2 linked regions of the Homo sapiens genome follow. The gene in region 2 interacts genetically with the main gene of each other region. Each region holds a gene or a part of one and is shown on either strand. Other genes may lie near its edges. The genes, in order: COPE and DUT.

The links.
Region 1: changes in DUT (region 2) and COPE together harm fitness more than expected from each alone (negative genetic interaction), as found in Homo sapiens cells (one large-scale study listed by BioGRID).

The regions. Positions count from the first base shown.
Region 1 is NC_000019.10:18,898,959-18,902,645, forward strand, and holds the end of COPE (coatomer subunit epsilon), read right to left. Parts: intron 1,492-3,687; coding exon 1,423-1,491; intron 990-1,422; coding exon 915-989; intron 769-914; coding exon 721-768; 3' UTR 556-720; downstream 1-555. UniProt on the Homo sapiens protein: The coatomer is a cytosolic protein complex that binds to dilysine motifs and reversibly associates with Golgi non-clathrin-coated vesicles, which further mediate biosynthetic protein transport from the ER, via the Golgi up to the trans Golgi network.
Region 2 is NC_000015.10:48,334,297-48,338,109, forward strand, and holds part of DUT (deoxyuridine 5'-triphosphate nucleotidohydrolase, mitochondrial isoform 1 precursor), read left to right. Parts: intron 1-120; coding exon 121-212; intron 213-1,749; coding exon 1,750-1,794; intron 1,795-3,813. UniProt on the Homo sapiens protein: Catalyzes the cleavage of 2'-deoxyuridine 5'-triphosphate (dUTP) into 2'-deoxyuridine 5'-monophosphate (dUMP) and inorganic pyrophosphate and through its action efficiently prevents uracil misincorporation into DNA and at the same time provides dUMP, the substrate for de novo thymidylate biosynthesis.

The sequences.
Region 1 (3,687 bases), on a different chromosome or scaffold from region 2:
GGAGGCTCCGGCCAGCCCTGCTGCCACCCACCCACCTCCCTCCCTAAATGGTGCGGCCGCCTCTCATCGCGGCTGGGTGCTTGGCCCCAGGACCCTGCCACAGCAGGACTCTGCCTTGGAGGAGGGTTTGCGGGGCGGCAGGAGCAGCACCTGGGGTTAACGCTGACCCTGCAGGGCCCCTCCGGCTTTGCTGAGCTGAGGCCTGAGTTTTTCCTGCCCTGGCCCCCACTTCCTCCAGGCCACTAGGGGTTCTCATTTTGAATCTTGGTGCCCCTCATGATAGCGGCATGACTTCTCTGTGCCTCAGTTTCCCCCGATGCCAACCAGGGCTGCTCAGTGGCCTCTAGGGGCCAGGGTGAAGCATGGGGACAGGGCTGTGCTGCCTCTGGCCTGCAGGAGCAGGTTGTGGCTGTGTGAGGGGCGGGGTGGGGGTCTGCACACCTGCTGCTCGTCACAGACCCTGGTCTCCAGGAACAGCCCTGGATGCCAGTGCCCCAGGACTCTCCCTGAGCGTCAGCTCCCACACGCCCCCAGCAAAGTGACCAGAGCACATCATCAGGTGGAACACCCTGGAGTTGAGATATTTATTAACAGATGGGGGTGCTGGGGGTGGGCTCCTGCCCCCAGAGGGGATGCAGGTGGATGCCGGGTGGGGAGGGCTGCAGGGCTGGCTCCTGGCCTCTGTCCTGGCTTCATGGTCCTGACAGCTCTGGGCCAGCCTCAGGCGCTGGGAGCGTACTGTAGCACCAGCCTGTCAAAGTCGTTCTCCTTTAGCAAGACACATGGCAACACAGGGTGGGGGCAGGGTGTGGGGAGACAGGTGGAGGGAGAGAGAGAGGGCGCATGTGAGCCCAGGCTGAGCTCCAGGCGCCCCCTGGCCTGGTTCTCGGGGACAGGCCATCCCCACCACTCACCTTGGCCTGGTACTCCTTGATGAAGGGATGGGACCTGTGGGCATCCTTCAGCTGGGACAGGTATCGGTTTGTCACCTGCAGGGGAGGCAGGGAGGCAGGTGAGCCGAACACGGGGACCCCACGGTGGCTCTGACCTGCTGGACAGGGGTGGATTGGGGTGAGAGCCACAGTACCCCAGGGGGCTCCTCACCCTGCCTTGGGACTGGGCTGATCTCGGAGAACCTTCAGGGTGGGGGTGGAGGGATGGGCCTGCCCCCTGGAGAGGCGCTGGCATGGAGCTGGCCTCCGTACATGGTGGGGGATGTATTGTGGTGTTCAGGGGAGCAGGTCGGGCAGGGCCCCAGGTGAGGATGGGTTGGGGGGCACAGGGTTTGTGAGGGAGGTGGGCTGCGGTAGGCATACTGTATACAGAGTTTTCCCAGGGGCCTAGGGATTAGGGCCTGGACCCCAGGCTGGGGTCCCAGGGTCTGGACATTAGGGTTGGCCTGGAGCCCTGGGGGCCGCTTACCTCAGGGGGCTTGCCCAGGTGCTGGGACAGGACGATGAGGTTGACCAGCGTCTCTGGGTAGCCACTATCCTGGAGACACAGGCAGACACGGGGAGGCAGGGTCAGCCACTCCAGCCCCCATGCCTGCCCGTCACCCCCACCTCAGGCAGCACCACACAAGGTCACCTCCTCAGAGGTGGGGTGGGACTGACACCGCCCACCGCTCTGCAAGGTGGAGATCTCAGATGATACGGTGCCAAGGGGCCAGCCGCCTCGCTGAGCCTCAGTTTCCCCATCTGTAGTCCAGCCTGGGGTACGACCCCTTGTTTACAGAGACTTGGGAAGGTTGTATTTGTCCCACACATCTCAAAGCCATGGGGCCCAGACCCAGATGGCCTCAACTCCTGCTGTACAACGAACCCCGAGGCCATGGGCAGACCTGCCACCCCTGCACCAGCTCCCAAGGAGCCTTGAAGGAGACCTCGGCAGGGGACCTTGCCTGACTCACTCACTCTAGGCTCCCAGCACACAGGACCCTAGGAAACATCTAGGCCAGGAGACCCAGCCAGAGCCCTGGTGTCTGCTTGGAGCACAGACACACCAACGAGGATGCGCCCAGAGCCCGACCTGCCCACGGCGGCCCATGGCAGGGCACCTTTTTGCAGACCGGACTTTTCTGAGCCTCAGTCTCCACCATGAAGGGGGACACCAGCTTGCGCTCACAGGAGCAGCCATGAGGTGGCTCCAAAGGGAAGTGGGGGGACCTGAGTGCCTCCCAAAACCCAGCAAGAATGCAGGGTGACCACAGCCACGGGGAGGCCACCAGGGCCAAGGGGCACGGCCAGCCAGCCCCAGGTGGTGTTTCAAGAGACAAGGACAGAAGGGAGTCATCTAACTGGTGAGTCACGGAACGTGTCACCTGAGAGGTGTAACAAAAGCCCCCAGAGGATGCGGCCATGAACACAACATGCATCCAAGTGTTCTCAGGTGGCAGGGAGGGGCAGGGTGGTGGAGGAGGGCGCCAGTCTTGCCCCTGGGGCAGCGAGGGACACACAGCCTGTCTGAGATTGCACATCAGGCTGGGAGTTCCTGACTAGCCCTGACTGCTCAGAGCTAAAGATGGACCCTGCTCAGGAGGAGCAGTACCCGGCCTGTGATGGGGCCAGCCTGATACCCCTTGGCCAGCCCCGCTCTGCAAACAACTTTCTGATGATAACTCAGCCCCTGGAAAGTCAGACAGGGAGGAGGGCTTCACCAGTGTTTGTCACTAGATTAAAACTGTTTCTCAGCTGGGCGCACTGGCGCATGTCTATCATCCCAGCACTTTAGAAGGCCAAGGAGGGTGAGAATTGTTTGAGCCCAGGAGTTCAAGACTAACCTGGACAACACAGTGAGACCCCATTTCTAACAAAAAATACAAAAATTAGCCACGCATGGTGGCATACCGTTTCAAAAAACAAACAAAAAACCCCCCAAAATTCGTTTCTCCAAAATGGAAAAAGCTTTGATGTCCTTTCTGATTATAAAAATAATAATCCAGGCTGGGCACAGTGGCTCACGCCTGTAATCCAGTACTTTGGGAGTCCAAGGTGGGCAGCATCATGAGGTCAGGAGATTGAGACCATCCTGGCTAACACAGCAAAACCCCATCTCTACTAAAAATACAAAAAATTAGCTGGGCATGGTGGTGGGCGCCTGTAGTCCCAGCTACTCGGGAGGCTGAGGCAGGAGAATGGCATGAACCCAGGAGGCAGAGCTTGCAGTGAGCCGAGATCACACCACTGCACTCCAGCCTGGGCGACAGAGCAAGACTCCATCTCAAAAAAAAAAAAAAAAAAAATCCACCAAGCATGGTGGCTCACACCTATAATCCTAATGCTTTGGGAGGCTGAGGTGGGACGATCACTTGAGGCCAGGAGTTCGAGACCAACCTGGGCAACACAGCAAGAACAACCCCGTCTTTACAAAATATATATATATTTTTAATTTAACATAACATAAACTCTTCATAAAGACTGCAGATGGCCAGGCGTGGTGGCTCACGCCTATAATCCCAGCACTTTGGGAGGCTGAGGCGGGTGGATCACCTGAGGTCAGGAGTTTGAGACCAGCCTGACCAACATGGCAAAACCCCGTCTCTACTAAAAATACAAAAATTAGCCAGGCGTGGTGGCAGCCGCCTGTAATCCCAGCTACTTGGGAGGCTGAGGCAAAAGAATCACTTGAACCCAGGAGGCGGAGGTTGCATTGAGCTGAGATCACACCACTGCACTGCAGCCTGGGTGA
Region 2 (3,813 bases):
CTAAAGTTGCATTAATTCATTAAATACACTGAAAGTAATTTTGTATGCTTGGTCACAAAGAAAATATAAAAACAATTTTATAAATAGATTTGCAGTTATTTTCTTTCAATATTTTCTTAGTGCCTATGATTACACAATACCACCTATGGAGAAAGCTGTTGTGAAAACGGACATTCAGATAGCGCTCCCTTCTGGGTGTTATGGAAGAGTGGGTAAGTCATTTAAGAAACAGGTAACTATTTGTCAAGTTCTCCTTTGTGATAGATTCTTCATGTTTCATTTGGGGTAATAAGCAGGCAATATTGCTTGGGCTGTGTCCTAAAAGAAGCACCATTTGTGATAGCAAATGCACTCTTTGAAAGGCTTTATTTACATCTCTGCTTTGCCTCTTTTTGACCCTTTTATTTTTCTCCTTCCTCACTGGAGCTTTTAGGCTCACACTGGCCTAGAAGGCTGTTCTCAGAACATGGCATTTTATATTATGAGAGTAAAACTTCTGACCTGTTGGTCCCAGAATGTGTAAGCCTACTTAACCTTTTCTTGTTTGGCCATGGGGTTAGGGTAAGGGATACTCTTCAGTGTTGTAGAGGCACTGGGAGGAGCTAGGACAAAATGGAGTACACGTCAACAGGTTTGATTTTTCTGGAGCGGATCAGTTGTTACCAGACAGTTCTTTGCAAGAGCGTAAGTTCTTTTTGACTAACTTCAGAGTAAACATAAAGGAGGCAATGGAGCTGTGACGCCCTCCTCCAGGGAAAGGAGCTAGACTGGCACTATATTATTAGCCATGAGTGAGGAAACTGCCAGTACTTCAGCCCTTAAAAGATAACAAGATGGGCTCTCATCTCATCTCTTGAGCATCATTGACTCCATTTTTTAGAATTTTTTCAGGGGAAGGGGCAGGAGATGGAGTGAAATAAAGGTTAGTACAGAAAGAGGCAGCATTATTGACAAAGTGCCTGATTTAAATTATTCTAAAATAAAATGCTGGAAGTTAGGATAATTAATTATAGGCCTGATGCTTGAGTCTGCAATAATAAGGTGTAACCTTAGCTTTTTATTTTTTTCATTTTTTAGGATTAAAAAGTATACTAGCATTGAATCATTGAGACTTAGTTTTTGGCATTTTTACTTAACTGATATTAGCCCATTTATCTTACTCTGGTTCATGTGTTTCCTACAGGCATGTCTTTTGGCATCTGAATCATGAATAGTGGGGTCCCAAGTTGTAGGCTATGGTCTGCTACTATTTGGTTAGGTTTGTTTCCCTCTCCCTTCCTCTTCCTTTCCCTTCCCATCTGCATTGTACATGTTGTGGTGTCCCATCTTAAAACCAAAGTCTTCTTCCTCAGTAGTGTGTTCCTGCTGGCCATACTTCTCTTTCTTCCCCTTTGAGGCTTAACTTCTTGAAAGAGCAGCCTACAGTTGTTCCCGCTTGCTCACCTTTCAGCTCATTCTAGCAGTCCTTCTCCCCTGTCTGCAGCACCACAAATTCTGACTGAAGTCACATGGGAGTGGTTTAAGTTAGTTTTGAATTAAAACCTTGTGGAATTTTTCTAAACTAGTCTTTCCAACTTTGGTAATGCAGTATGATGAATATATATTCTTTAATTCAAAACCATGTGCTAAAGTTAAGATGAAGATATAGATATTATAGGTGAAGAGAATGACATGCTTAAATTGCATCAGTTATCTCTGATATAGCCCTTCCCCCTTAAAATAACCAATGTCTCCTTTTTTGTTTTTTAGCTCCACGGTCAGGCTTGGCTGCAAAACACTTTATTGATGTAGGAGGTAATATATTTCCTTTTTTATTCTGTAAATGTTTGCAAGTATTTACTTTGTCTTTAAAAGGTAATATTCAAATGACAGATTTTATTTTTAAGAAAAGAAAATGATTAGAGGAAAGCTTGTTATAATAGGAGGAAAAGCTTTGTGGTTATTTTAAGTAATTATATTTTGTTTAACTACTAACTTAATTTTTAAAATAATGATTACCTAATTAATAATGACAGATTTAATGATATAATAATTAAGTAATTATTTAAGCAACAAAAGTTCTAGAAAACACAGGTCTATCTTGTAAGAATTTTCTTCATAAGAGAGCTATCTGTCTTTAGCAAAATTTAAGAAGAAAATCTTTCCCTGAAGTCAGGAGAGAAAACACTTTTCTCTAAATTTGTTAAGACAGTCCTCTGTGTTACCTGTTTCCCTTATAATAAAGCCTTTCTCATGTTTGTCTCAAAGTTAACCCTACCTCATGTGGTACCTTTCATGAAGAACCCTCAGTGTCCTCTGCTAACTACTCTTGATACAGAGCTACTCCTCTTATTGTAAGGAAATTTCTACTTTCCTGATGTGGTTTCCTTGTTTCAGGTCCGCTCCAACTGGGATTCAGACCCCACTTATGTGGTCCTTACATACTGACCCTTTATCCCATCAGTAGTGAATCTTTCACTTAACAAGATACCTTGGCCCCCACATAAGTAGGTGTGCTAGATCTCCTCCTCCACCCGTTTTTACAGAGCTGCTTTATGGAGGCTTGTTAACAGATCAGGAAAACTGGCTTAGAAATGAGCCCACATGGATATGTGGTAAAAACTGGAGTCTCTGTGTGATTCCAGCCTCCTTGTTCTTTCCACTGCAATTAATTGTGGAGATTACCCTGCTGCATCCCCCTCACCAACTAAACACGTCCAGAATTAGCTCACTTTTATGTGCCACTGCAAGGGCTAACTAAGCACTTAATGAAACCTGGCTATCCTAGACCTGCCCCTTAGTCTAACATTTGGTGGGTGTGGTGTCTCTCCATAGTGTCACCAGGTGGTGCTGTGGGACAAGACAGGACCCCAAAAGTACACCCTTTAGGGACTAAAGGGGAGCTGAGTTTTACATAGCAGGGTGGACATTGACAGCCCACTCTTGGGTTGAGGATTCCTTGGGCTCTGTAAGTTATGCCCGATGTTCAAAAATGCTTTTACAAGGTCAACTGTGGTCATTTTGGGACAGTAACTTAAGGATATAAATAATTGTATATATTTTCAATGAAGTTTCAAATGATTGTTCAAGGAACGGGAGCTTTGGAATAACAACTGGATGTAGGTCCCAGCTCTGTCATTAACTAGTTATTACTTAACCTTTCTGAGCCTGTTTCCTCATTTTACAATGGAAATTAGTGTGCCTGCCTCTAGAGGTAGGAGGATTAAATGATAATGTGTATGAAATACCTAATATAGTACTTGGCACATATTAGATTCTGTGAGATATAATTTCTGTCCTTAGGGACTTCACAGATTGTTTTTATGTGGAAACTTTTTCTTTTATTCGACTTTGTTACTAATTTTTGCTCTGTTTAAAACAACTTTCTGGAAAAAAATTCATGTAAAAGAATGGAAAGTTAGTTTGCCTAGTGGTTGGTATGGTGTTATTCATAAAATCACATTGTGGTGTGTTCTTGGATGCAGAGAATCTTAACAATCTCCCTTAGGCACAAGTTTATCATAGTTGGCAACAGTTTTTATTTCTGAAGAGAGATGTTGTTAGAAATCCCAGGCTCTAAATAAGGGTCAAAGGGAAAAGTTGAGCATTCAGGATTCTGTTCAGAATTCACATCTGGTAGGTGTGGATAGTTTTTCACTAAAAAAGGTTTCCAACAAATGACATGCCAAACTCTTGACACAGTAAAACTTTTGCCTGAAGTCAGTTAATCACTCTGCCAGTTCCAATGCATGATTTTTCCAGTGATAACTTCAAGTTACTTTCTGCTTTCTCTGAGGAGAAATATCCCTGATACTTATATCCTGTAGGCAGAGA